Homo sapiens: one gene and its partner. The protein of the gene in region 2 purifies or fractionates together with the protein of the main gene of each other region. This does not show direct contact. Each region holds a gene or a part of one and is shown on either strand. Other genes may lie near its edges. The genes, in order: PIF1 and KCTD12.

The links.
Region 1: the proteins of KCTD12 (region 2) and PIF1 purify together in Homo sapiens (co-immunoprecipitation; 2 studies listed by BioGRID and IntAct, with this or other methods). This does not show direct contact.

Annotation. Positions count from the first base shown.
Region 1 is NC_000015.10:64,806,956-64,823,291, forward strand, and holds the end of PIF1 (ATP-dependent DNA helicase PIF1), read right to left. Parts: intron 15,656-16,336; coding exon 15,523-15,655; intron 15,437-15,522; coding exon 15,311-15,436; intron 14,566-15,310; coding exon 14,412-14,565; intron 14,327-14,411; coding exon 14,212-14,326; intron 14,134-14,211; coding exon 14,027-14,133; intron 13,065-14,026; coding exon of another isoform or gene 13,049-13,064; exon of another isoform or gene 13,032-13,048; coding exon 12,892-13,031; intron 12,269-12,891; coding exon 12,162-12,268; intron 11,390-12,161; coding exon 11,302-11,389; intron 11,137-11,301; coding exon 10,991-11,136; intron 9,811-10,990; coding exon 9,619-9,810; intron 9,403-9,618; coding exon 9,343-9,402; 3' UTR 8,994-9,342; coding exon of another isoform or gene 8,736-8,993; 3' UTR 8,677-8,735; downstream 1-8,676. UniProt on the Homo sapiens protein: DNA-dependent ATPase and 5'-3' DNA helicase required for the maintenance of both mitochondrial and nuclear genome stability. Efficiently unwinds G-quadruplex (G4) DNA structures and forked RNA-DNA hybrids.
Region 2 is NC_000013.11:76,883,406-76,893,584, forward strand, and holds the start of KCTD12 (BTB/POZ domain-containing protein KCTD12), read right to left. Parts: upstream 3,001-10,179; 5' UTR 2,744-3,000; coding exon 1,766-2,743; 3' UTR 1-1,765. UniProt on the Homo sapiens protein: Auxiliary subunit of GABA-B receptors that determine the pharmacology and kinetics of the receptor response. Increases agonist potency and markedly alter the G-protein signaling of the receptors by accelerating onset and promoting desensitization.

The DNA of each region.
Region 1 (16,336 bases), on a different chromosome or scaffold from region 2:
AGCGTTAAATCTGGAGCCTGCCAGCTTGGATTTCAGACCCTTCCACTCAGGCTGTGTGACCCTGGGCAAGTTTTTTGCTCTCTCTGAGCCTCAGGTTCTAACAAAGAGCAGTTTTGGTGCATCGTTCACACTGGGTGGGCTGTGAGGTCAGATGTCCATCCAACCTCAGACCCTCCATGGCCCTTGCCGGTCTTCCTGGGTATGCCCCTCCTTTAGCCAAAGCATATATCCCCCCATGCCCCTCCCCCAACGCCTGCAAGAGCTGCCCTGTCCTAGCCTTCTGGGAGTGCCCCAGCCCCTCTGAAGGGGTTCGAGCCAATCCAGGGCCTATGCAATGAGGGACCAGCAGGACTCAGGGGATGGGGGAAAGGACCTTCTCAAGGCTCATTTTGGGAGGGGGAGTACATACCTGCTTCCCCCACCCGTGCTCCCCCATGACCCACTCCATGGGATATTTGGGTTTCCTCCCCTTTCCCGAGCTCAGGCCCTGCTTGCTTTCTCCACAACAAGGAGCGAATGTTATTTAAAAGGAGATCAGGAGATTTGCCTTAAATAGGCATGGAGTGCTGTGCCAGGTCCCAGTAGAGGGGCGGGAGAGGAGGCCATCTTGGCGGAAGGGAGAAAGGAGTGGAGCTGCAAGAGAGAACAACCTCCCAGGAGTGCGCAGAGCCCTGCACAGTTTACCAAGCACAGGCCTAGTCTGCGGGGAGACGCCCCGGTCTTCAGATGCCAGGAGTGTGGAGGTTTTCTGGGAGGCAAGGGGATAGGGCCTGCAGAGTGGGGGGCTGTCTTGAGACCTCCCCTGACACCTGCCCCCACCATCAGTTTCCAGACCTTTGGCCCCTGCCCCCGGGCTGCCCCTGCCTGTCCTCCCAGCCCTAGCTTGTAACTGGATGCCATCCTCACTCTGCACCTTCCCAGGTGAGCTGGGGCTCTGCTTACTGAACCCAACACCCACTGGGGGCGGGGATTGAGGGGGCACCCCTGGGGCGGGCATCTGCCTGGAGGCTGAGGCTGAAGGCGGGAGCTGGAGCTGCGGGGGAGGAGTGGAGATGGGCTGGCTGTCTCATTCACAGCCCCCGCCCCAGGCCTCCTCAGGAATTTAGGGTTCCAATTCCCTATTCAAGGTCACCTTCTAAGCCTTTCAAGCCCCACCCCTCCCATCTTGGCCTGCCAGGGCCAAGGACTCAGGGGCACCCCCCTGCCATTTCTGTCCCAGCAGGTGATGCTCTTGGAATCTTAAGGAAATGGAGTCTGGCCTGTGGAGTTTTGGGGACAGAGCTAGGGGGAAAGGAAGCATCCCATGTTCAGTCCTTTTTTCAAAGGCCCTGAACACCAAGGTGAGGCCTCAGATACCTGGATGCCCAACCTGGATCTGCCATTTACAGCCATATGACCTAGGGCCACCCACCTTCTGTGAGCCTTGACTTCCTCTGTAAACTAGGTCTAAAGATTCCACTGTAGACTGGGCGCGGTGGCTCACACTTGTAATCCCAGCACTTTGGGAGGCTGAGGTGGGCGGATCACCTGAGGCTGGGAGTTCGAGACCAGCCTGACCGACATGGAGAAACCCCGTCTCTACTAAAAATACAAAATTAGCCGGACGTGGTGGTGCATGCCTGTAATCCCAGCTACTCAGGAGGCTGAGGCAGGAGAACTGCTTGAATCCGGGAGGGGGAGGTTGCAGAGAGCCGAGATCACGCCATTGCACTCCAGCCTGGGCAACAAGAGCGAAATTCCGTCTCAAAAAAAAAAAAAAATTCCACTTTAGAGTTGTCGAAGTCGCTTTCATAAGAAAATGGGCAGAAGACAGAAGGGGGATTATGCCCAAGTGCACTAACTGACCGGGACCTGTACCTCACGTGTGTTGCGGGAGGCAGAGTGGGGAGATTTCATCCTCCCCTTCCCCATGGTGGGTGGGCGCAGCCCAGGTCCTCCAGAAGGCCAGACAGGAAGGAAGGCTTTGTGAAAGATGGCATTCATTTACTCTGGGCTGCTGTGAATTCTCTTTGTTATTCCCCAGAGGCTGCTCAAGAGGGGGTTAATGGGGCGGGGGATGGCCCCTTCAGGTGACAATAATCAAGACAAATAAATAAGAGCTAACCTTGAGGGTTTGCTGCATCCCTGGCCTGACTCCAGCTCTTCTGTCTTCCTAACTCCATCCATGTTTGATCGGCTTTATCCCCATTTCACCAACGATGAAACCAGAGCTCAGATTTAAGCAGAATAACCACAGTCACACAGTCGGGAACTGATGGGGCCAGTGTTTAAACACAGGAATCTGGCTTCAGGGCTCTCTGCTGACTTTGCAAAAATCCCAGGACCCTTTATTTGGGACTTGGGTTCCAGATACAGCTTGCAGTGTGGCCATAGCCAAGTCACCTAACCTCTCAGAAGTTAGGTTTCTCAGCCATGCGCAGTGGTTCATGCCTGTAATCCCAGCACTTTGGGAGAACAAGGCAGGCAGATCACTTGAGGTCGGGAGTTCCAGACCAACCTGACCAACGTGGAGAAACCCCGTCTCTACTAAAAATACAAAATTAGCCAGCTGTAATCCCAGCTACTCGGGAGGCTGAGGCAGGAGAATTGCTTGAACCCATGAGGCAGAGGTTGCAGTGTGCTGAGATGGCACCACTGCACTGCAACCTGGGTGACAGAGCAAGACTGTCTCAAAAAAAACAAAAAAACAAAAAAGAGAAAAGAAAAAGAAATTAGGTTTCTCTCTTTATAAAATGGGGACAATTGTCCCAACCTCCCAGGGTTATTGTGAAAAACAAACTAGAGGGTTAATGAGGCCGGGCATGGTGGCTCGCCCCTGTAATCCCAATGCTTTGGGAGGCTGAGGCAGGAGTATTGCTTGAGCTCAGGAGTTCGAGGCTGCAGCAAGCTCTGACTGCGTCACTGCACTCCAACCTGGGTGACAGAGCTAGACCCTATCTCAAAAACAAAAACAAACCAACAAGAGGGTTAATGAGCACAAAGCAGATAATCTGATGGAAGATTATTTAAAACTTCCCTGCTCTACACTAACTCAGCCCCCACCTCCTAAAGTGTCCATGCACCCCCCACCTAAGCCCAGAGACTGGGAGACAAAGGCTCTGCGGTTCCCTGGGAAAGGACTGAATGACCAATTGGCGCCACCTAGTGGTCTGCAGTGCATGGGGAGCGGGAGGGCCCGGCTGCTCCGGGATTGGGGGTTAAGTAAGATCATTAGCCCAGTGCGGATGGGAAAAATATACCAGGACGTCAGAAAGGATGGGGTCAGGCCTAGTTGGCACCCCACTGAAGACAGGGTGAAGGAGCGCACAGGGCTCAGGGTTCTATTCTAGTTCCAGTTCTGCCACTAAGAACCTCTCCAGGCCTCAGCTACCTCCTTTGCAGAATGGGAGTAAACATTCCTTACCTCTCAGGTCACTGTCCAAGCCTTTGTTCACTTATGAAACATTTAATGAAGCATCTGCTTTCAAAAGTCATCCTGCTGAGGGTTGTGAGGACACAAAGACATCTCAGCTGTGTCTCTCGGGATCAAGGGATCCGCTTCATCCTAGCAGGGAGACTGAGCTGTAAATTGCTCACTACCCTCAGATGCAGATCCCAGGGGACACTGAGGAGGGAGCATAAGGCACAGGAGGCAAGTGGAGGGACAGCAGGTAGTGGGACTCCCCCTCCAAGGGTGAATGTCTTTGAGAAGTGGCAGGAACTGTGACAAGTCAGGTCATAAGATTATCTTTCTGAGGGCCATCGCCCCGCCCCTCTTGCCTGGCCCCCTGCCTGCCTCCCAGCTGGGGACTGGATCGCCCTGGGCTGAGCCCCCTACTCTGGGCTCAGCCCCCTCAGGGCCAGGCCAGCCTCCCCACATACCACCTTCTCTTGCATTAAAGCCTTTAAAGTGGACCATAGGTCCATCAAGGATAGTTCACATCTCTGTGCATTTGCACTGTGTAGCTCCTCTCTCCAAACACCTTTTCTCCAACTCGTCCACCTGGCAAAGTCAACTCCAGCCTTCCTGTGGGAGAGTGGAGAGGAGAGTGCGAAATCCCCCAACTAGGAAGGAAACAGAAATGAAGGGGTGCCCCCTGCCCCCATCAGCAGTGGCACAGCCTGTAAGAATGTGAAATATACATTTGGTCTTCATCCCCATTTCCTGGCATACAACTCCTAAAATCCTTGGAATCTCCAAAGTGATAAGTGTCTTTTTGTATGCTGATGATTGCCTGATGGCCGGCAGCCCCTAGGCAGCTTCAGGATGGGGCTGGTCACCAGAAAGACCAGGGCAGGATTAGAGGGTTGGGACTTTCAGCCCCACCCTATGACCTCAGGGGAGGGGAGGGAGCTGAAAGTTAAATTGATGACCAATGGTTAATCAATCATGCTTACATAATGAATTCTCCATAAAAGGCCCCAAAGCAGAGGTTCTAAGAGCTTCTGGGTAGCTGAGCAAGTGGATATTAGTGGAGGAAGGCTTTCCCACAGAGGGAAGCTCCACACCCCTTCCCCCACGTATCCTTTTCTAATAAAGTGATAAATGTGTTTCCCTGAGTTCTGTAACTCACTTTAGGAAATTAATCAAACCAAAAGAGGGGGGTCTTGGGAACCCCAACTTGAAGCCAGTCGGTCAGAAGTTCCAGAGGCCCAGACTTGTGACTGTCTGAAGGGGCTGTCAGTTTTGGTGACTGAGTCCTCAACCTGTGGGATCTGAGGCTGCCTCCAGGTAGATAGCTTCAGAATTAAATTAGAGGACACCCAGCTAGTGTCCGCTACAGAATTGCTTGTTTGTTGATGGGAAGAAGTCCCTGCATTTGGTCACAGAAGTCTTCTCTCTGTGTTAATTGTTGTTGCTGTTGAGAGAACAGGAAAAAGCAGTTGGAGTTTTTCCACCCACACCCTGCTATATGAGGGCAGCTTTCTTGGGCAGGTAGCAAGTCCTGGTCGCCTAAGGGTAAGCTCTCTACCTTCCTTATTTCTTTGTTCATTCCCTTGCTGTCTGCCTGCCCCTTTCCATGTGCTGGGTGTGTGTGTGTGTGTGTGTGTGTGTGTGTGTGTGTGTGTGTGTGTGTGTGTGTATTTTTGCTTTGTTTTGTTTTGAGCTGGAGTCTCACTCTGTTACCCAGCCTGAGTTTCAGTGACATGATATCTTGGCTCACTGCAACCTCTGCCCCCTGGGCTCAAGTGATCCTCCCACTTCAGCCTCCTGGGACCACAGACACGCACCACCATGCCTGGTTAATTTTTTGTATTTTTGGTAGAGATGGGTTTCACCTTGTTGCCCAGGCTGGTCTCAAACTCCTGATTTCAAGTGATTCACCCACCTCAGCCTCCCAAAGTGCCGGGATTACAGGTGCGAGCCACCGTATATGGCTCTCCCTGTGCTTCTTTGCCTCAAATCCAGAAGTTATCTGAGGACACAGTCTTTCCTGGCCTTTGCTTCACAGGTAAAGTTCCTTGAGAGGATGATGCTGGGGGGAAGGAGAGGCAGAGAGAAGGAGGGTTCCATAGACTGGGGAGGGGCAAGTGGTCAGAGGGTCCTCTGGGAGCACCACAGGGAGGTGGCAGGGGCCCAGAGGGCCTGGCATGAGGTACTGGAGAGTCTCAGAAAGCCTCCCACCCCATCCCAGGGCCCAGGCTGAGTTACTGCCTATGGATGGTGATCAGGGCGGGCCCTGAAGATGAGAGCGGCTCCTATAAGCCCCACTCTCATTTGACCCTGGGGATTGAGGAGCCTCCTGTCTGACTGAGATAGGGTTTCCCTACACCCCTCGGGATACAGGCTCAAAGTTAAGTTAAATTAGATGTCAAGAAAATAGAGAGCCGTGAGGTTTCTTGCACACCTCATAAAATAATCCACTATTGTGATCTGGCATGCGGGTCAGGAATGTCTGGAGCTCACCCACCATGTGGAACTCACTTGTCTTCCTCTGGGGGCCTTCCAGAGAGCATCTTCACCATGAGAAGGGATTGCTAAGGAGAGGACTTTCCGGTGCCCAGGTAGTCTCACGAGAAAGACATTTTATATAGCAGGACAGATGCATATGAGACTGGGAAAAGCTGTGATCAGCCCCTGCGGAAGGGGAAGGGGCTGGGTGAGTGGGATGCCTCAGCCATGTGTGGAGGATGGAGTCAGAGAGAGGAGTCCCAGGTGAGGATGCAGAAGATAACTGCATCACCGGACCCTCAGACATCCCCAACAACCCGGCCTTCGGGGGTGATTAGAGAGTCATCCTGGACAGAATCACTAGGCCCTCTTGCAACTTGATGAAACATTTGGCCTCTTGCCAGTAGCCACAGGACTTGCATGGGAGACCAAGGTCACCCAGCCCCATACCCGCCTTTAGGTCTGAACTGAATCGGGGGAGGAGGTAGCAGAGTGCAGAGCTCCTGCCCCTGGCAGCTGTGCTCAGTGTCTGGTGGCGGCTGCAAAGGTCTTCCTGGCCTGACTGCTCCCAGCTCTACTCCTGCCAGTGGCTCTAGCCTTTCTGATTCCTATTTGTTTCCAAGCCTAGTTTTCTGGGCTTCATATCAGTTCTTTGAGATAGCCTGTTGTTATCTTCCTTTCCTGCTTCAATTATCCTGAGTCAGTTTCTCCTCTTTCCATCCAAGACCACCGAAGGTTGCAGAGCTGTTAGAGAATATGAGATAGTGCTATCTGGGCTGAACTGGGTGGTCCCCAGACCGTGTGTTCAGTAGAAGGAAAGAGTGAAAGCAGCAAAGTGCAACCAGATTGTAACTGCCCTGAGGGCAGGGCCTCAGTGTGACCTGCTCACAGCTGGACCTGGGAGAAGGGATGTGTTGCATGGGGAAATTGGGAACATCTGACATATAAATGGCACCACATTTAAAGACCCCCATGGTTGCCCACTTGTTGTGGGGTAGGGGAAGGAGGTGTCACTCTGGTGGGCTTGTTTTCTGCTCCTAAGAGTGTCTTCTGTTTGGAACAGAGAAAAGAAATTGTGTCACAGAAAAACAATTGACTCAGCCGGGCGCAGTTGGGAGGCCAAGGTGGGCAGATAACAAGGTCAGGAGATCGAGACCATCCTGGCCAACATGGTGAAACCCTGTCTCTACTAAAAATACAAAAATTAGCTAGACTTGGTGGCATGTGCCTGTAATCCCAGCTCTTTGGGAGGCTGAGGCAGGAGAATCGCTTGAACCAGGGAGGCAGAGGTTGCAGTGAGCTGAGATCGTGCCACTGCACTCCAGCACTCCATCCTGGCAACAGAGCGAGACTCTGTCTCAAAAAAAAAAAAAAAAAATTGACTTCTCCAGGTCAGGGAGGGTGGCACCACCATGCCCAGCTAATTTTTGTAGACATGGGGTTTCACCATGTTGGCCAGGCTGGTCTTGAACCCCTGACCTCAAGCCTCCAGAGTTCCTCCTGGGACTACACCACTGTGCCCGGCAAATTTTTGTTTTTTGGTAGAGACAAGGGCTTCATCATGTTGCCCAGGCTGGTCTCGAACTCCTGGGCTCAAGCAATCCACCCGCCTTGGCCTCCCAATATGCTGGGATTACAAGTGTGAGCCACCTTATCAGGCCATCTTTTTTTTTTTTTTTTTTTTTTTGAGAGAGAGTCTCTCTCTGTCACCCAGGCTGGAGTGCAGTGGTGCAATCTCAGCTCACTGCAAGCTCCGCCTCCCGGGTTCACTCCATTCTCAGCTTCCAGAGTAGCTGGGACTACGGGCGCCCACCACCATGCCCAGCTAATTTTTTTGTATTTGTAGTAGAGACGGGGTTTCACTGTGTTAGCCAGGATGGTCTCCATCTCCTGACCTCGTGATCCGCCCGCCTTGGCCTCCCAAAGTGCTGGGGATTACAGGCGTGAGCCACTGCGCCCGGCCCCAGCCACCTTTTTTATTAATCTGACACCTGTAGCTGCCAATGCATGCCTCCATCATAACCCATATTTACCACCCAGAATCGATACCTTTTCACTCACAAGCAGAGAATCTTAGTTTTAGCTAGCCTATGAGGACCCCTGGGCAATTTCCATCAGGCTTTTTGAAAAACTGAAGTTAGTTTGTTGATGATCAGGTTCAAGCTGGGGAGACCATCAAGGCTCAAACTGAGAAATTTCAACCCAGGCTCCTAGCAAATGCAGCAACATATAGCAGGCCTGTTTGTTTCCCACCACGTGAATTCTCTAGTATGTCTGACTATTGGGTGATGGTAACTCACCTTCACCAAATGACAACGTCATTTCTGTTTTGTTTTTTTTTTGAGACAGAGTTTCACTCTTGTTGCCTAGGCTGCAGTGCAATGACGCAATCTCAGCTCACTGCAACCTCCACTTCCCCACCTCCCGGGTTCAAGTGATTCTCCTGCCTCAGCCTCCTGAGTAGCTGGGATTACAGGCATGCACCACCATGCCTGGCTAATTTTGTATTTTTACTAGAGATGGGGTTTCTCCATGTTAGTCAGGCTGGTCTCGAACTCCCGATCTCAGGTGATCCACCCGCCTCGGCCTCCCAAAGTTCTGCGATTACAGGCGTGAGCCATCATGCCCGGTGACAATGTCATTTTATTGCTAGTCACCAACATCAGATAACTCAGCTTTTCAAACGACCAGTGATACTAAGACCACCTCACAGAAGGGTGTGATCTCAGCCACTGTGGCCTAAACAAACACGTGTGTGCACATGCACAAGTGAGAGGGGGAGAGAGAGGAGGCAGGAGGCACAGTTTTTACACAATTCTCTAGTTTATTTGTCCGAAATAAATACAACCTGAGAACATCCATTTCAATGTCCCCAAACACTATTTATCCCCTGAAAAAGCAGCTTAAAATATGGGTGCACATTTTGCAGCTTATGTTCTTTGGTTAGGCTCTGAAGGGTGTTTGTTCTGGGCTGGGCTAGGCTGGGCCTAGCTGTAGAGACACACCTAAGTTCCGTTCTCTGTTTGGAGGCTGCACCCAGCCTGAGTCCCCACCAGTCCCCTCCAAGAGCCCTGATGCTGCTTCCGGAGCACCTGTCTTCATTGCCTCTCCCTTCTGCAGCCTGAAAGGAGGGATGTTCAGGACTCTGCAGCTCTGTGTCCAGCCCTTGCAGAGAGCTTTGTCCTCTGACATCAGCTACCACACAGGCTCATTCTCAACTGGCACAGAAAGGGTTACTTCTGACCCTACAGCAGCTTACCCAGGGCAAAGTGAGAGAAACTGAAGCACAGCTGGTATATGGGTTTAAAGTACTCTCCCTTTAACCCTGCCAGGAGGCTGAGAGTCCCTAAAAAATACAGAAGGGGACACTGCCTGCCTACTCCAGTTATTCCCTGGGGCCCTGGGCCACTAGGGAGCAGGAGGACGGGGAGGCCACAGGCCACCCTTTGTCTTCTCTTTGTGGGTGAGGCTCAGAGGATTGGGTCCATGTTCTCCTGGTCTGAGGCTGCCTCATCATCATCTGGGGACTCCTGGATCAGAGCCAGAGAAGCCCAGTCATGGGTTTGTGCTGTTCCCCAGGACCATAACCTGGGGGCCAGCATCTCTTTCCTTTTGCCCTCACCCCTAAAGGAGCCAGCAGAGGGCTTTTCTGCCCCCACCCCAGGTCCCACTGGGCCGGCGCTCCCTCTGTCCTAGCTCCCACCCTGCCCGTGGCCACAGCCCACCACTGGATGACTCCCTCTTACCAGACTGAGGCTCCTGCCCCGCCGCAGGGTGGCATAGAAGTGCAGCACACGGGGGTCACAGCGAACCGCCATGGGGTCAAAGTCCAGCACACGTAGGCCCTGCAGGCTGCGGGCCCGAGAAAGGGCCACATAGGCCTGGCCACTGGCAAACACACGGCCCAGAGAAATCTCCACACAATCCAGGGTCATGCCCTGGGGGATGCAGGGACAGAGATGGAGTCAGCTCAGCCTTAAGTCCCTTGCCCCGAAAGGCCTGACCCTTTACCAGCCCTGCTACTGCCCCTGGATCTCCTCGTCCAGTCCAGAGAGTCTCTAGACAGAGGGAGAGCATGACAGCAGGTGGCTGTCTGAGTAGGAGGGGGACCGGGAGACAGATCCAGGTAAGAGTTGAGGGATGGAGTGAAAGGAAAGCACTCAGGCTCTGGGTCAGACAGGCGTGGAGCTGAATCCAGGCTGCCACTCACTAACTGTGTGACATGGGACACATGAGCCCTGGTTTCTTTCTGTGCAAAATAGGATTATTCATTATATCTATACTTTATACTTGATACAGTGGTTGTATACAATTTATACAATTTTACGTATCTAGTGGTGGCTTAGAAAATGGTGGGGCAGGAGATGGCAGAGGGGAAGTGAATGTATCCAGGAAAGGGAGAGGAGGTGGACTTGGAAATTCACTAAAGAAAAGTTTATTCTGGGCTGGGTGTGGTGGCTCACGCCTATAATCTCGGCACTTTGGGAGGCCGAGGCGGGCAGATGACCTGAGTTCGAGACCAGCCTGGCCAACATGGCAAAACCCCATCTCTACTAAAAATACAAAAAATTAGCCAGGCGTGGTGGCGGCCGCCTGTAGCCCAGCTACTCGGGAGGCTGAGGCAGGAGAATGGTGTGAACCTGGGAGGCGGAGCTTGCAGTGAGCCGAGATCACTGCACTCCAGCCTGGGCGACAGAGCAAGACTCTGTCTCAAAAACTAAACTAAACTAAAATAAAATAAAAAAAGACACATAGGCCAGGCACGGTGGCTCACACCTGTAATCCCAGCACTTTGGGAGGCTGAGGTGAGTGGATCACCAGGTCAGGAGATTGAGGCCATCCTGGCCAACAAAGTGAAACCTCATCTTTACTAAAAATACAAAAATTAGCCAGGCGTGGTGGCATGCGCCTGTAGTCCCAGCTACTCAGGAGGCTGAGGCAGGAGAATCTCTTGAACCTGGGAGGTGGAGGTTGCAGTGAGCCAAGATCGCGCCACTGCACTCCAGCGTGGGCGACAGAGCAAGACTCTGTCTCAAAAATAAAAAAAAGACACATAGACTGCAACATGCCTGACCTCCCTCTGCCCTCCCTGTCCCTGCCCCCCACACCGGTGCTCACTTGGCTCTTGTGGATGGACATCGCCCAGGCCAGCTGGAGGGGCAGCTGCTGCCGACTGAGGAGCTGGCCCCCGGTGGCCTGCACCGTCCAGCGGTCAGCGTGGATGACCTCAGTGACTCCACACAGGAACCGCACCTGGGGTAGCCCTAAGGAGAGCATGGAGCAGTCCAACTTTAGCTCTGCTTCAGGGCTCTGAGGTGAGGAGCAGGGGCCTTTGGAGCTTTCCTTCCTAGTCTTTTTCTCCCCCCACCATTCCCGGGGCCATGCTGCAAAGCCCCGTAGCAGGACTGCCACCTCCTCCCAACACTTACCTCTCCCTTCTGCCTCGAACCCAACTACCACCCCTCGGGCACCATTCACCAGGCCCCGAGACACCGATAAGTTTTTCACCAGCATCACCTGCAAGGGAGAGAGAGGAATGGACAGCAGCCCCCCTACCCATGCCTGGTCTTAGCTTCGCCATGGCTGTTCTCAGAGGCTGAGGGCAGGGAGCTGTCATGGGGACACTGAATCCCAATCCTTAGCTCTGCCACTGGCTGCCTGTGACCCCTGGGGCAAGTTGCCTTATCTTCCTCGGTCCCAATTTTTCTTTATGTCAAAGAGGAATAATATTTGCTCAATTTGCCCCAGAAGGAGGTGGTAAGGGATCAATAAGGCAACCTCTATCACAGGGCTTTGAAAATGATTGGCTTGGTTATAGGTACATCTGTGGACCACAGATCTTGAGGGATGGCCTCTAGGTCCTGCCACCCCTCTCAGATACACTGTGCCTGCATTTTCCCCTTGGGTGCCCTAAGGAAAATCTTCTGCCCACCCCCAACATTGAGGGAGGAATCAGGACTGTCTCCTGTTTATAAAGTATACTACAGAAGACAGCTGTGTGGGGTAGGTATTTCATTCCCCATTTTTAGGGATGAGGGGACAGAGCTTCAGCAAGGGAAAGAAATTTGCCCAAAACAACACTGCTTGGAGGACCTCCTGGTGTAGGAAGAGAAAAACAGTAGAAAGCTTAAGATGGGAAGGTGGGTGGGAACAGGAGGCAGGGAGGTTTTCAGTGTGGTCAAAGCTGGGCCCACTGGCTGCAGAGTGGCCTGGGCAGAGGGGTAGGGATCAGCAAGGCCCATGCGGGACAGCCCAAGCTCCCAGGGGCTAGGCCCTGCTTCCCACTCACCTGGGCCCCCAGCTTTAGTTGAAGGAGCTGGCTAACAGGACACTGGGCATCCAGGGTACTGGCCAGCTCAGGGTTGCTGTCCATAGCCTCAAATCTGTGTACCTTACCTGGAGAAAAAGAGTTGAGCAAACAGATCACAAATCACTGACTTGTGACTCAGCATCCCAAAAAAGACTTTTTTTAAATTTTAATTTAATTTAATTTTATTTTTTGAGAAGGAGTTTCGCTCTGTTGCCCAGACTGGAGTGCAAAGGCGTGATCTCGGCTCACTGCAACCTCTGCCTCCTGGGTTCAAGCAATTCTCCTCAGCCTCCCGAATAGCTGGGATTACAGGTGCCCACTACCACATCTGGCTAATTTTTTTCTATTTTTAGTAGAGATGGGGTTTTGCCATGTTGGGCAGGCTGGTCTCGAACTGCTGGCTTCAGGTGATCTGCCTGTCTCGGCTTCCCAAAGTGCTGGAATTACAGGTATGACCCACCGCTCCCAGCCTCCAAAAAAAACTATTAGACCAGAGCACGGGGGTAGGGAGTAGAGGCAGCGCAGGCCTGGGGGGCTGTGGAATTTAGTTCATCACACCTCTCAAAGTCACAGTTGCATTTGCAAATATGAGGGCCTTTATGGCTTCAGAGGTTGGGGGCCTAGGACCCAGAGGCCCAGGTTGCCTGGGGGCTACATCTGCTTATAACTCTTCCCAGCTGGTCTTGCCCAGCCCAGGCTCCCTGCTCACCTGGCAGCTCCTGAAGCCGCCTCTCGTTGGTGAGGGCCACATCATCCTGGTGGGTGCAGAGCCTCGTGGCCACAATCCCATCTCGCCCCACCTTGTGGGAAGCTGTGGCCTGGAGCTGGCGGGTCACCTCATCTGAACACCTGTTGGGGCTGGACTGTCAGGGCAGAGCCCACCTGTGCAGCAGGGGAGGTGGGGAACATGGGCAGGATGGCTCAAGCAGCAGGCCATGGGTCAGGCCTTGGGACTGGAAGAGGGCACCAGGGAAGAGTTGCTGCCCCCTCAAGCTGGCCAACCTGTCCCTTCCAAACTTGGACCCCAAACATGGGGAATAAGCAGGGGCAGGGTACTGAGCTTTGATCACATGTGGGCACCCTTCCCTGTGCTGCCCCAGGTCAGAGCTGGCCACCCTCGCACTCCATAATACTCCTGAGGAAGTTGGCTATGATGAGTGAGCACAGGCTGGAGATTTGCAGGACCCAGATTGGCCTCCAGGGTACAATCTTCTATCCACTTGCCTCCTACCTTGGGTGAAAAATCTAGCTTATGTTTCTGTTTTGTTTTTGTTTTTTGAGACGGAGTCTCGCTCTGTCACCAGGCTGCAGTGCAGTGGCATGATCTTGGCTCACTGCAACCTCTGCCTCCCTGGTTTAAGCGATTCTCCTGCCTCAGCCTCCCAAGTAGCTGGGACTACAGGTGCGTGCCACCACGCCCAGCTAATTTTTGTATTTTTAGTAGAGACTGGGTTTCACCAGGTTGGCCAGGCTGGTCTCAAACTCCTGATCTTGTGATCCGCCTGCCTCAGCCTCCCAAAGTGCTGGGATTACAGGCGTGAGCCACCGTGCCCAGCCCCTGACACCTACTTTATGCCAGGCCTTGTGCTAGGTGATGGAGACCCAACCCTGAGGGAGGCTAGGTCCCAGCACTCAGAGCAACCATCTCCTATGGTGCCATGATGGTCTTGACTACAATCCATCCTGAGTTGTCCAGTGCCCTGCCCAAGGCTCCTCTTCCTGCATGGAGTGCTTGCTCCTGAGGGTAACAATTCTACCCCTTCTGTGAGTCCCTCTCTGTGTTCCACTGTGGCCCATGCCTGGATCCTCATCCCATAGCCCCTTCCCCAACCAGCAGAGCTCACCTGCCTAGCCTCACGGCCTGCAGTAGAGAGATGAAGGTCTGGTCTGCCTGCCTCCACACCTTGGTCAGCTCCAGGGTCACTGGCACACACCTCTTCCAGCTCTTGGACTGGTGGGGGCAGGGTGGGGGTGGGTCAAGGAGCAGAGCAGACCCCCAAGGAGAGCAGAGCTAGGAGGTGAGTAATACCTGGAAGCAGAACCGTGGGGGCTGGGAGCCCTTGGTCACAGGTGGCAGCTGCAGAAAGTCCCCACAGATGATGAGCTGGATCCCTCCGAATGGCTTGTTCTGCTGCCGGACAGCTCTGGAGAGGAGCGTGGGGTGCTTTAGGGGCACACAGAAGACCACCAGGTCCCAGTTCTCACCTGCTGCCCTCTGAACATACTGACCTGGCCACGGCCTCCAGTTTGTCAAACAGGTCTGCCTCCACCATTGAGATCTCGTCAATGACCAACCGCTGGCAGTTCAGCCAGCCCTGCCGCACGCCTGGCCTTTGGGCCAGGGCCACACACTGGGCTAGAGGAGCCTGGCCTGAGCCGATGCCTGTGAGTGACACTATTCAGCCTGGGCTAATACCCAAAGCCTCTCTTTTTTTTTTTTTTTTTTTTTTTTGAGAGAAGGTCTCTTTCTGTCACCCAGGCTGAAGTGCAGTGGCACGATCTTGGCTCACTGTAACCTGGGCCTCATGGGCTCAAGCGATCCTCCCACCTCAACCTCCATAGTAGCTGGGACTACAGGCACACACCACCATGCTCAGCTAATTTTGTTTTGTTTTGTTTTGAGATGGAGTCTCGCTGTGTCGCCCAGGCTCAAGTGCAGTGGCGTGATCTCGGCTCACTGCAAGCTCTGCCTCCTGGGTTCACGCCATTCTCCTGCCTCAGCCTCCAGAGTAGCTGGGACTACAGGCGCTTGCCACCATGCCTGGCTAATTTTTTTGTATTTTTAGTAGAGACAGGGTTTTACCGTGTTAGCCAGGATAGTCTTGATCTCCTGACCTTGTGATCCGCCTGCCTCGGCCTCCCAAAGTGCTGGGATTACAGGCGTGAGCCACTGCGCCCGGCCGCTAATTTTTAAATTTTGTGGAGACAGGGTTTACTGTGTTGGCCAGGCTGGTCTCAAACTCCTGGGCTCAAGCGATCCTCCCACCTTGGCCTCCTAAAGTTTTGGGATTACAAGAGTGAGCCACGGCGCCCAGCCCCCAAAACTCCCTCTTTATGCAGACCTCCCCTCTCTCCCTTCCCAGAAGCTGGGCTTGCTCTTAGCTCAAGCCCTAGGGGTTCCTACTTACCTGCAAAGGCATGGAGGGTGGTGCCCCCGATGTGGCAGGCTGCCACCCCAGTGCTGGCAGTGGCCACAGTGCCTGTGGGGGGCAGTGAGCCCAGGATTCGCTTTAGCAGATATGACTTCCCTGTTCCTGGACAGGGGCAAAGTTAGACAGGTCTCCCTGTTCCTCTATCCCACCCCACCACTGTCCCCCTACCTCCTCTCTGCCCCCACTACCTGCACTCCCAGTGAAGAAGATGCTCTGGCCTTTCAGGACGGCCCTCAGCACAGCAGCCTGTTCCTCAGAAAGCTGTGGCTTGGTGGAGGGCAAGCTCAGCCTCTTCACAGGCAGGGGCCACCTTGGGGCTTCCTGGGGGGAACAGAGCTATCTCAGAGCATCCTCCCACCCGCTAGGCATTGCCCCCACCCTTCTTGGCCCATGTGCAATGCTGGGCCTGGTAACCCTTTGTCCTCTACTGCCTTCATTCCATGGAGCTCTTGGGTTTGCCTGGAGAGCTTGCCAGCAACTATTGGGGTCCCGATCTCTCCTTGTGCCCTGAAGACCCCCATTGTCCAGTCCTGGGCAGACCACACCAGTGTGGTCTACACCCTCCCTTAGCTCCTTCCCCTGGGTTCCCTAACCCTTCTCATCCTGTCACTAAAGTTTCCTTCCTGTCACCTAAGTTTCTCTTCCTATCACAAACCTGTTTCTCACCTCAAAATACCCAAGCAAAACCCTGTCTAGCCAGGGCCCCTTCTTATCCTGTCTCTGTCCTCTCGCCAGCTTAGTGTCAAACCCTGGTGGGCTATGATTCACCTGCCCCAGCCCATGAAAATTGTCAAACCCACCAGACTTTTTTCCCCTCATCTGCTTCAACTGTTGGCTGCCCAGGACACGAATGACCACTTCATTCTCTCCATAAGCTCCTCTACTCTGGGCCTATTACCCTCTCCCAGCATTCTTTCTGTAGTCCTTTGCAAGCCTCCTTCTCTTCTTTCTCTCTCGCTCTCTCTTTTTTTTTTTTGAGGAAGAGTCTCGCTCTGTCACCCA
Region 2 (10,179 bases):
AATATCCAAAGGACACCTCACAGCATGGAGCATGACGAGGTTTATTTCCCTTCACTTATGGTTTACATAGGATATGCATTGGGAATTTATTCCATGTAAGAGTAAAGGCATAAGGCAACCAGGTCTCCTTCTGTTTCTGTTGCATTTACCTATTATTGGACCATTTTATTGCTCAGCTCACTTTTAAGTACTTATTTGCCTTCATTTAAAAATATTCCATTTTACAGCTATCTACAGATAGGCAGCCCTTGGTGCTGAGTTCTCTGCAGCTCGTCATTTGAAAGGATTCCACTTAACTTCAAACAAACTGCATGAAAGTGGCATTTTCAGGTTTTCAGGTTTGCCCAGAAGTCAACGTTTGCTGGGCTTGGAGAAAATAAGGATTTTTAATAAGTGATCTTAGGTCTAAGTAACCAAAATGAAACTTCTTTTGCGCAATAGATTCCAAAATCAGGATTTATAATCAACAAGAAAATAAAAGTTCAAAAACTAAAACCCTACTGGGTAACTCTTTGGTTAGATTATATATAAGCATTAACAACTCTAAGTTTAGGACTCAAAACAGTAAGTTAAGTAAACTGCCAGGTAAGAGTAGGTCTGTTATTAATCTTTATAAAATACTTGGCATGTTTGCATTTACTATATGATATTTTTTAAATGTGCATATACTCAAACAGATGGTACAAACTTCCAACTTTCAAATCATAAATGACTATGTCTGCTTCTCCCTTCCCACCCTTCCTACCCTTTCCTCCCTCCCCACCCCACCCCGCCCACCAAGTCTTACAGCTAAAGGAAGGTCCTACTGACATTCATTGAAAGAATACAGGCTTTCCTAATACCCACGACGTGCACTATGACCCAGCTCCCTACAGTCACTGCCAGGTGACCTCCTACGGCGCTTGGAGACCTGAGCAGCCTTGCACTCTTAGGCGGCAGCGTCCTTTCTCCCTCTTGCCAGTAACTGCTGCCATGTCAACCAGTGGAATCAAGGGCTTCTGGCGAGCAGCAGCTGAAAAGGGCGCCTCTGCAGGCAGGCGGATCACTTTCTATAAGTTTAAGCTACAGGCTGAGACCTTTTATTCTGTACGAGAAAGGATCCTTTACTGTCCCACGCACTAGATTCTTCTACTTTACGTGTAACTTTTCAAAACTTTATTAGTTTAGTTACTGAACTGCCTCCATGGGGTCCTAATTCCAGGCTCAGAATCTTCCATCCAGCCTTCTAAAACTCTACCTTCAAAAGAGGTCAAAAAGACTGTGTAATGACCTTGTAAAACACTAACCCCAGACAGTGGAACCAATCCTGATCTCTTAAACCCCCAGTGAGTCATAAGAGCTTGAGAAGATTTCAAGGAAATCTTCCGCACATTGGACACGGTCCAATCAGGTTCTGAACAATTCAATCATCCCCCGGTCTGTGGCCACACTCCCCCAATAGATCCAAACTGAAGTACCATCTGGGGGAGGGGTGGTTTGAGGCAGGGAGTAGAGAAAGCATGGAGTGGTAGGTGGGGGTGGGGTGGGGGTTCCTCTGGGTTCTCTCGGTTCAGGAGGTCCAAAGAAGACGAAGCAGCCCAGAGGATTTGCGGCTGCAGGTTCTGTAGTGGAGGGAAGGTGGGCGGACAGGTCTCACCCAGCTACTACTGGAGGGGGAGAATGGGAGGGCAGCAGCCAGGGGACAAAGGTGGGACAAGAGGCTCTGTAATCATCTCTCGGGCAGGAGAAGGACTGGGCGCTGGAGTGGCGAGGGGGTCTGGGGAGCTCACTCCCTGCAGAAGACGTACTCGGTGTAGCTGGTCCAGATCTTGTCCTCGCTCTGGTCGGTGCTGCTGGCAAAGGCGCAGGTGCCCGTGGAGCTGCACGCCACCATGTGGAAGCCCGACTCGGACAGCTTGTCGAAGGCCTGCTCCAGGAAGTTGAACTTGAGGTAATAGCGCGAGGTGTAGCGCTCCGGGGGACGGTCGGGGTCCCGGCTTTCGTTCAGGGTGTCCCCAAACACCTCCTTGGCCAGCGACGTCTTTCCGCAAACGGTGATGCGCGCCACTCGCCGGAACTTGGCGTCCGCCTGCGCGTCCCGCCCGATGGTGTAGGAGCCGCGGTAGCCGATGGTGATGTAGCCCGAGCGCCGGCTGCCGTCCAGCGACTGGGACGGCGTGAGCAGCGGGCCCGCCGCGCCCCCGGACGGACTGCGGCTAGCCAGCTCCAGCGTGGGCGACGGCGCCCCGGCAGAGGCGCCCTCCTGCTGTTCGGGCTCCGAGTAGCCAAGCGGCAGCAGCTCGTCACCCAGCGAGCCCTCCTTGTGCACCCCGCGCCGCGAGGGCGGCGGCCCCGGGCCGGGCTGCTGGGGCGCCCCGAGGCGGCGCACGAGCTCTGGCAGCTCGAAGTACTCGGCCTCGCGCTGCAGCCGGCTGCGCTCGGGGAAGTAGTCGGGCAGCACGAGCTGCAAGTCCCGCAGGTAATCCAGGATGTAGCGGAAGAGGAAGCCGTCCCGGTCCAGAAAGAAGCGGCCTTTGCTGTCCCGGGCCAGCTCCTGCGGCTGCTGCTGCGTGAACATGCGCCAGAGCAGCGAGTCGGGCACCGACACCACCGTGCAGCGCCGGGTCACGTACACCTGGCCCCCCACGTTCAGCTCCACGATGTCGGGGAAGAGCGGTGGCTCCGCGGAGGACGACGAGGAGCCACTGCCGCCCCCGCCGCCGCCCCCGTTGGGTAATCCACGTGTGCTGTCCGCCAGAGCCATGACAGAGAGGTGGCCGGGCCGGGACAGTGGCAGGAAGCCGCGCTGCACTCAGGAGCTGCAACCGCCTTCCCCGGAGCCCCGGAACCCGGACGCTCGCTCAGCCCTGCGCCCCGCCGCCGCCGCCGCCGCCACCGCCGCCACCGCCACCGCCGCCACCTCCTAGAGCCGCGCGGAGCCGAGCGGTGCGAGCGCGCCGCTGTGCGCCCCCTTGAGTTCCAGTGCGCTCCGCCCGCCTTGCCCGCGCGCTCCAGGCGAGTGCCGGGTCGCGGCCCGCGCGCTGCTTAAGTAGAGCCGCCTGCTCTGGTGCCGTGGCGCGCAGGAGGCGTGGGCGGCGGCGGAGCCTCGCTTACCGGGCGAGGGGAGGTGGGGAGCGGGGACTCGATTTGCATCTTAAACGCGGACGCCACGCGGGGCTGCTGGCTCCACCCCGGCTCGCGAGCGCTGGGGGCGCCCGGACTCCCACCCGCTCCCCACCCACCAGCCCCGCCCCGTGGTCCCGCCCAACTTTCTCCCTCTTCCGAAGAGGACCCGCCCGAGACTTGGCGGCTTCGGAAGACAGCTCCTTGGAGGGACAGTCACCGCGCCCCCTCCCCTCTCGCCCCAGCCCGCACCCAAGGACTCTGGAAGGAGGACGTGAACTTTCGGAAGCCTGTCGCCCCGGGAGTGGAAATGCGTGGCCGCCTCCGGCCCTCCCGCCTGCGGAACTGGGCGCTTCCAGCAGTGCAGCTGCGGCCTGCCATCGTTGGTTGTCGTGTCACTGAAAGTAGAGAGACGCGAAAAACCTGGAGAGACGAAAGAGCCGCCCCAGTCCGAGCGCAGCCAGATTTTGTTCAAGTTGCCTTGCAGCCAGCCTGGAAAATAAATAAATAAACCTAGAAACAAAAAGCAAACCTCAGTGTCCCGCAGTAGGATGCTTTACGATAGTTTATTTTCTGGCTGCAGAGACAAAATGAGATGAAGCTTCAAATCTGCTCTTAATTGCAATTCCCTCTTCCCGCAGGGCCTTCGAGGCACTTCACTTCGAAGTGAAGGGGTAAGACTCCGGAACGTTCGGTCTCCGGGTCCCATTCAGCCTTCGTTGAATCGCGCCCTTAGACTCACAACAGTTGCAGATCTAACGTAATTTTTAAAGCCACCTTTGGCGCCTGCATGTTTATCCTTCCAAAAGTCCAGGCGCCCCTTCTCTCCCGCATGCCTCGGTCACTCTTCGGCCCTGTCCAAGTTCCCGTCAGTCTCAGAAAGGGATATTTATATATCTGAAGGCCCTTGTCTGGATCCCATCTCTCAACTCCTGCTGCCTACACGTTTGCTTTTCCCCCTCGGACTGCAGCCCACAGAACCGCCCCCTCCCCCTGGAAGCTTTCCCTGGCTTCCCAGGTGGGTGGGGCCTCTGGATGGCTCCCTACACACTGTCTGCGCTGCTCCCAGCACGTTCTGAAATGTCATATTTATGAGTGATTATCTGATCACTGATTTGGGTATGAAAATAAGTAAGAGCTCCTGAATGCTGCAAAAAGAGAAGAGTGCAGAGGAGGGTGTCAAGAAATGATTGGGTCACTGAATGTTTCTTGTGTACCTGCTATTATTTGCAGGGCACCAGGGAGTGAGGAATGCAAAGGCGAATAATCTCCAAAGCGCTTTCAGTGTAGCCCAATAAGCAAAGGGTCAGGGGTCTGCGCAGTTATCACATCAGTTTGAAGTATAGACCACACATCAGGATAAATCAGGCAAGATCTTTGTTCTTGATAAAATTTATCCTTCTGTGTAACTACCCAGTGAGCTTCACAGTCTCCTCACAGATAAATGTCATTTTTATTTTGAAATGTTTATATCTGCTCAACAATTACCGCGCTCATGTCAGTGTGCTGAAATGAGATCAACCCCCAAACCAGTTATCTTAATTGCAAGTACAGATTTTGATACTGAATGTATTTCAACATTCTTTTTTTGTTGTTGTTCTGTTCTTTGGGATAAATAATAGATAACACAAAACTTCCAAGTCCCAGTGCAGGATTTCGAGGTGGTTGTGCTACTAGGCGTTATATTAGTGTCAGAGACCTGACAAAACCAGCCTCTTTTCTACAAATCCAAGAAAAGCCTTCTTTGTATCAGTTCTGCACATATTTTTGTATAATTACCATTGCTCATTGCATCAGCAAATCCTGCCAGCTCTGTGTTAAAAATCTTTCTAGACTATTAACGTATTTCACCATCTCCCTATCATCACCCTGGACCAAGCCACCATCATCTCTTGCCTGGATTATTGCACTGGTCTCCTAACTGCTTCTACTTCTGCTCCTACAGTCTTGTATCACCAGAACAAAAACAGGGACCCTGCTTATAATCCAAGGCTGGTATGTCACTCTGCTCAGAGCCTGCCAGTGGCTTCCTATCTCAGAAAGAGCAAAATCCAAAGTCCTCTCAGTGGCTTACAAGACTCTACATGTTTGGAGTTATCCCACCAGCACCTCTCTGACACATCTCCTGCCCTGCCCCCAGGAGCTGGCTGGCTTTAGCCACATAGCCCCTTTCTTGTTTTCTCAGGGCCTTTGCACATCCTTGTAAAAGTCTCATTTCTCCTCCCTCCCGTGTTCCTCACCTTGTTCAGGTCCCTCCCTTCTCACCTTCTTCAGGTCTGCCCAGCAAGACCTTTCCTTGATTCCACTTCTTAATGCAGCACAGCCTCACTGCAGCTTCCTCTTCCTTGCCTTATTTGTTGACTCTTTTCCTACATCAGAATATAAACTCCAAGACTTCAGCAGTTTTTGTCTGCTTGGTTCACTGCCACACCCCCACTGCCTAGAACAGAGCTGGTATATTACAGGCATTTGATAAATATCTGTTGCTCACGCAAGCATTCAACCACTATTTATTCAGGGCCTACTACTATATTCCAGGCTGCATGTTAAAAAATAATCACTGCCCACTAGGAGCTTATAGTCTTGCGAGGGAGACAAATAAATATAGTATAAAGATAAGTAAGCCTATTTCAGGTGGTGATAAATGCCACAAAGAAAATAAAATTATAAGATGTGATAGAGGGACTGAGTGTGGAATACTACTTTATACAGAGTGCCTGGGGAAGGCATCTCTGTGAATGTGACATTTGAGCTGAATAATAAGAAAGAGACAGCCATGGGAAGTTTTGGAGGAAGAGCATTCCAGGCACAGGGTCAAACAAGTTAAAGGGGCCTGAGTTATGAGTGAGCTCACATTGAAAGTTTATGTATTGTGTCATCTACTTGTATCCTGTGAATCTCCAAAGTACCCTTGAGATGATCAGTACAGAGTCAAATGTGAGTGATACCGTGTGCTTATTCACTACCTGCAGCCTACTATCATCATTCTCTACATCTTGACATAAGGTAGTCATCAACCACCAGCTAGTCTACTGCAGAAAAGCCATTGGTATTTCCTTATGGAAGCCAGGTAATGCATGAGAGATATAATAATGAATGAAACAGGTGATTTGAAACACAAGGAATGTTTTTCTAGTTAATTTTGTGTGTTCTGTTTCTTGCCTATTGGTTGGTATCACAGAATTCAAAAGGAAATACTACTGGGGAACTCTGATGCTGGGACTTGAGGGCCTGAGTGTTTATAAGAAGAGAGTCATAACTCTTTAGCATCTCCAGTATGTTAAATATGCTTGATTGCAAGGGATTGGGGAGGATTTGGAAACCCACTAGCCCTGTGTTTAGTCTCAAACCAGTTTCTAATGATGGTCATTGCTAATTGATGGTCATTGCTCCTTTTCAAGTAACTCTTTGTATTTTCCTGAATAAGATACAGTGTGCCTGCAAGTAACCTGTCCTTTGATCCTAAAGTGGAGGATACTGGAAACATCTCTGGACCTACATTCTCATCTCATTTGCATCTTCTCCCCCACCTACTGCCTTCTCTTCAAACCAGCTTCCCCTCCCACTCCCCACAGTAATCCTTCTTATCCAAAGTTTCCATTACCATGGTTTCAGTTACCCATGGTCAGCTGTGGTTTGAAAATATTACATGGAAATTCCAGAAATATAACTAATTCATAAATTCAAAATTGCACACCATTCAGAGTAGTGTGATGAAATCTCCCACTGTCCTGCTTCGTCTTGCCCTGGACATGAATATCCACACCTCTACACTCCCAACCCATGAGTCACTTAGTAGCCATCTCAGCTGTCAGATCAACTGTCTTAGTATCACCCTATCACAGTGCTTGTGTTCAAGTAACACTCAGTTTACTTAATAAATGGCCACAAATTACAAGAGTAGTGATGCTGGCAATTCAGATATGCCAAAGAGAAGCCATAAAATGCTGCCTTTAAGTGAAAAGGTGAAAGTTCTCAATTTAATAAGAAAAAAAAAGTTACATCCCAAGGTTGCTAAGATCTATGATAAGAATGTAGACATTGTGAAATTTCTGTGAAATTATGAAGGAAAAATTTGTGCTAGTTTTGCTGTCACACCTCCAAACACAAAACGTATGGCACAGAGTGCATGATAAGTGTGTAGTGAAAATGGAAAAGGCATTAAACTTGTGGATTGAAGACATGAAGAGAAACATGTTCCAATGGACAGCAATCAGGTTCAGTACTACCTACGGTTTCAGTCACCCACTGAGGGTCTTGGAATGTATACCCTTTGTATGAAAGGAGACTACTGTATTCTGCATACCAAAGATTTAAGGAAAGGAATGAGGAACATGAAGAGAAATATAAAGTTAAAGGGGAGGAAGAACTGGTGAAATGAAGTGAGTGCCTTTGAGAATTGAATGAATTTAATATATGTGAAAATGATCTGTACATTGTAAAACACCATTCAAGTGTCAGAATCATTATTTTCCACCACTTATCATGGTGCTTGACAAGTCTTCCCAATAAATACTGAATGAACAAATGAATGGCAGAAACATTAAAATGAACACTATGGGGAAAGGGGAAGAGAGGCAGAATCAGAAATTATCCTGAATAAATATTTATTCCATTTGTCATCCTCCTAATATGTGTGAATCTTTTCTCCATGCAGGCTTTAGAAGTCATTGACTTTTTGCATTTAGAAGGAGAGATTAATTGAATAACATTAAGTGAATCCGGAGGCAAAATGATCTTAATAAAGATTTGGTAAAAGATGTGACAATATTTAACCTGAAGAAAAGAGAACAAAATGTTATATAGGGTACACTGCCAAAATACTAGGTCTAAATTCCAGTTACTCAGGAGGCTGAGGCAGGAGAATTGCTTGAACCTGAGAGGCAGAGGTTGCAGTGAGCCAAGGTCGCACCACTGCACTCCAGCCTAGGCAACAGAGCGAGACCCCATCTCAAAAAACAAAACAAACAAAAAAAAAAAACAGGTCTAGACAGTAAAGAATATCCCAACATTGTATGATTATCTCTAGAGTATGATTTTTATGATTTATAGAACCAAACAAAGAAACAAAAGTTAACAATGTTGATATTTCTATACCCTTAAGATGGTGTTTGGAGCTTATCCAGGAAACAAATAATATAACAAGCATGTATAGAGTACTTACTATGAGCCAGCCCTATTTATAGAACTATACATGTATGAACTCATTTAATCCTAACAATAACTTTATGAGGTTGGTGCTATTACCCAAGTTTTAGATGAGAAACTGAGGCACAGTGAACTAATTTTCCCAAGATCATACAGCAAATAGGTGCTGGAGCTGGGATTTGAACCCAGGCAGTGTAGCCTTAGAATCTGTGCTTTTAAACACTGCATTTTAAATCCCCTTTCCTCTAGGAGTGCTTTACATGTATTAAGAAGTAAGTTATATTATTTTCCCCCTTTACAGATGAGAAACCCAAGGCAAAGAGAAGTAAGGTAACTTGACCAAGATAACACAGCTCTTTATCTCTGCTGGGGGCAGAAATGCTACTCTAAAGTCTACGTGCTTGTGTTCCGCAGTACTGGTAACCAGAAACTCAAAGTAGCCACCCTGAAAGAACTAGGGTTAAGAAAGAGTCAAGTCCTTGGCCCTTATTTCTTCTTTCTGCCTTCTTTTTTCCTTCCAACCTATTTTAGGTTTATGGGTACCTGTGCAGGTTTGTTACACAGGTAAATTGCACGTCGCAGGGGTTTGGTGTACAGATTATTTCATCACCAAAGTAATAAGCATAGTACCTGATAGGTAGTTTTTGGATTCTCACCTTCCATCCAACCTCTACCCTCAAGTAGGCTCCAATGTCTATTGTTCCCTTCCTTGTATCCATGTGTACTTTTACCCAAATAAGAATCTCTATTTGAGCCCCTGGATAGAACTGACACACTATTGTCCTAATCTTTCCCTAATTCAGTCCTGTACACAAAATAAACAAGATTTTATTTCTGGCTCTCTCAAATATCATTACGGTTTGCAAAGCACCAAGTTCCTAGCATGTTCATTTGGCTTTATTCTGATCTCATTAACTCTTGACAAGGATAAAGTGAATCCATGGAAACTGCTGAGATCTAGGTTCCAGTTTCCCAAAGCAAGCAGTATCCACTGGTCTTCTGGGGCTCATAAAATTGAACAAGTGCATTCTACTTGTGGCTTTGCATATCAAACTGAACACAAAAATAGCTGGCCCTCATCACTTGAGTGATTCTGGAACTTCTGACTAAGACTAATTATTAACATCACTGATGTTTCATAAGAATTTGAAAGTCTTGGTTTCCAATCATGATATTAAATTTAGAGAGGAACTATATATAAGTTATCACATTCTAATCACATTCTAGTGTTTTTCTGTTTCGAGTGTTTTCATATTGTCAGGTTGACTTAATTATCACAATTTTGTGAGGTGTTAACCAACCTGTGTTCCAAATGAAGAAAGAAACTCAAAAAGGTTAGGTGACTCACACCTCCTCTCAGGTGGCTGGGATGCAGTGCTGGGATGCACGTGGATGCTTCCTGATTTCATATCCCATGCTCTTTGAACTCTTCAGCAGCCATATCAGCTCCATTTAACACCCAAATGAAGGTTGTCATTCAAAATAATCACCTTGAAGACTATATACTCCTTTGAGGGATGCTGGAATCACTCACCATTTTTGGTACATTTGTTTGGAAATTTTCTTCAAAGCCAATTTACACAAGAATATCACCCTATTATTTTATACTTATGTTAAAGTTGTAGTTGATATCTTTCTAGGGCTCTAAAACAGGGCACCTCACTGCAGGACAGACCCACATGCCTGAAAATAAATTAGGACAAAGCCAGTTTTCATGAATGAAACTAAGGTGATGATCATCGGGTATTCACCTTTTGACATTGGGTTTTAAAGATCTCATCCCTAGAGTTCTCTAATATGCTGAATAGCATTGAGTTTAGGTTACTTAGAAAGAAGGGCTGATTCAACTGCAGAGATTTTAATATGTGGTTCCAGAAAGTCTGCATATTTTATTGTGAGGTTTGCACAAGAAGCCAAGCCACTGGCTAG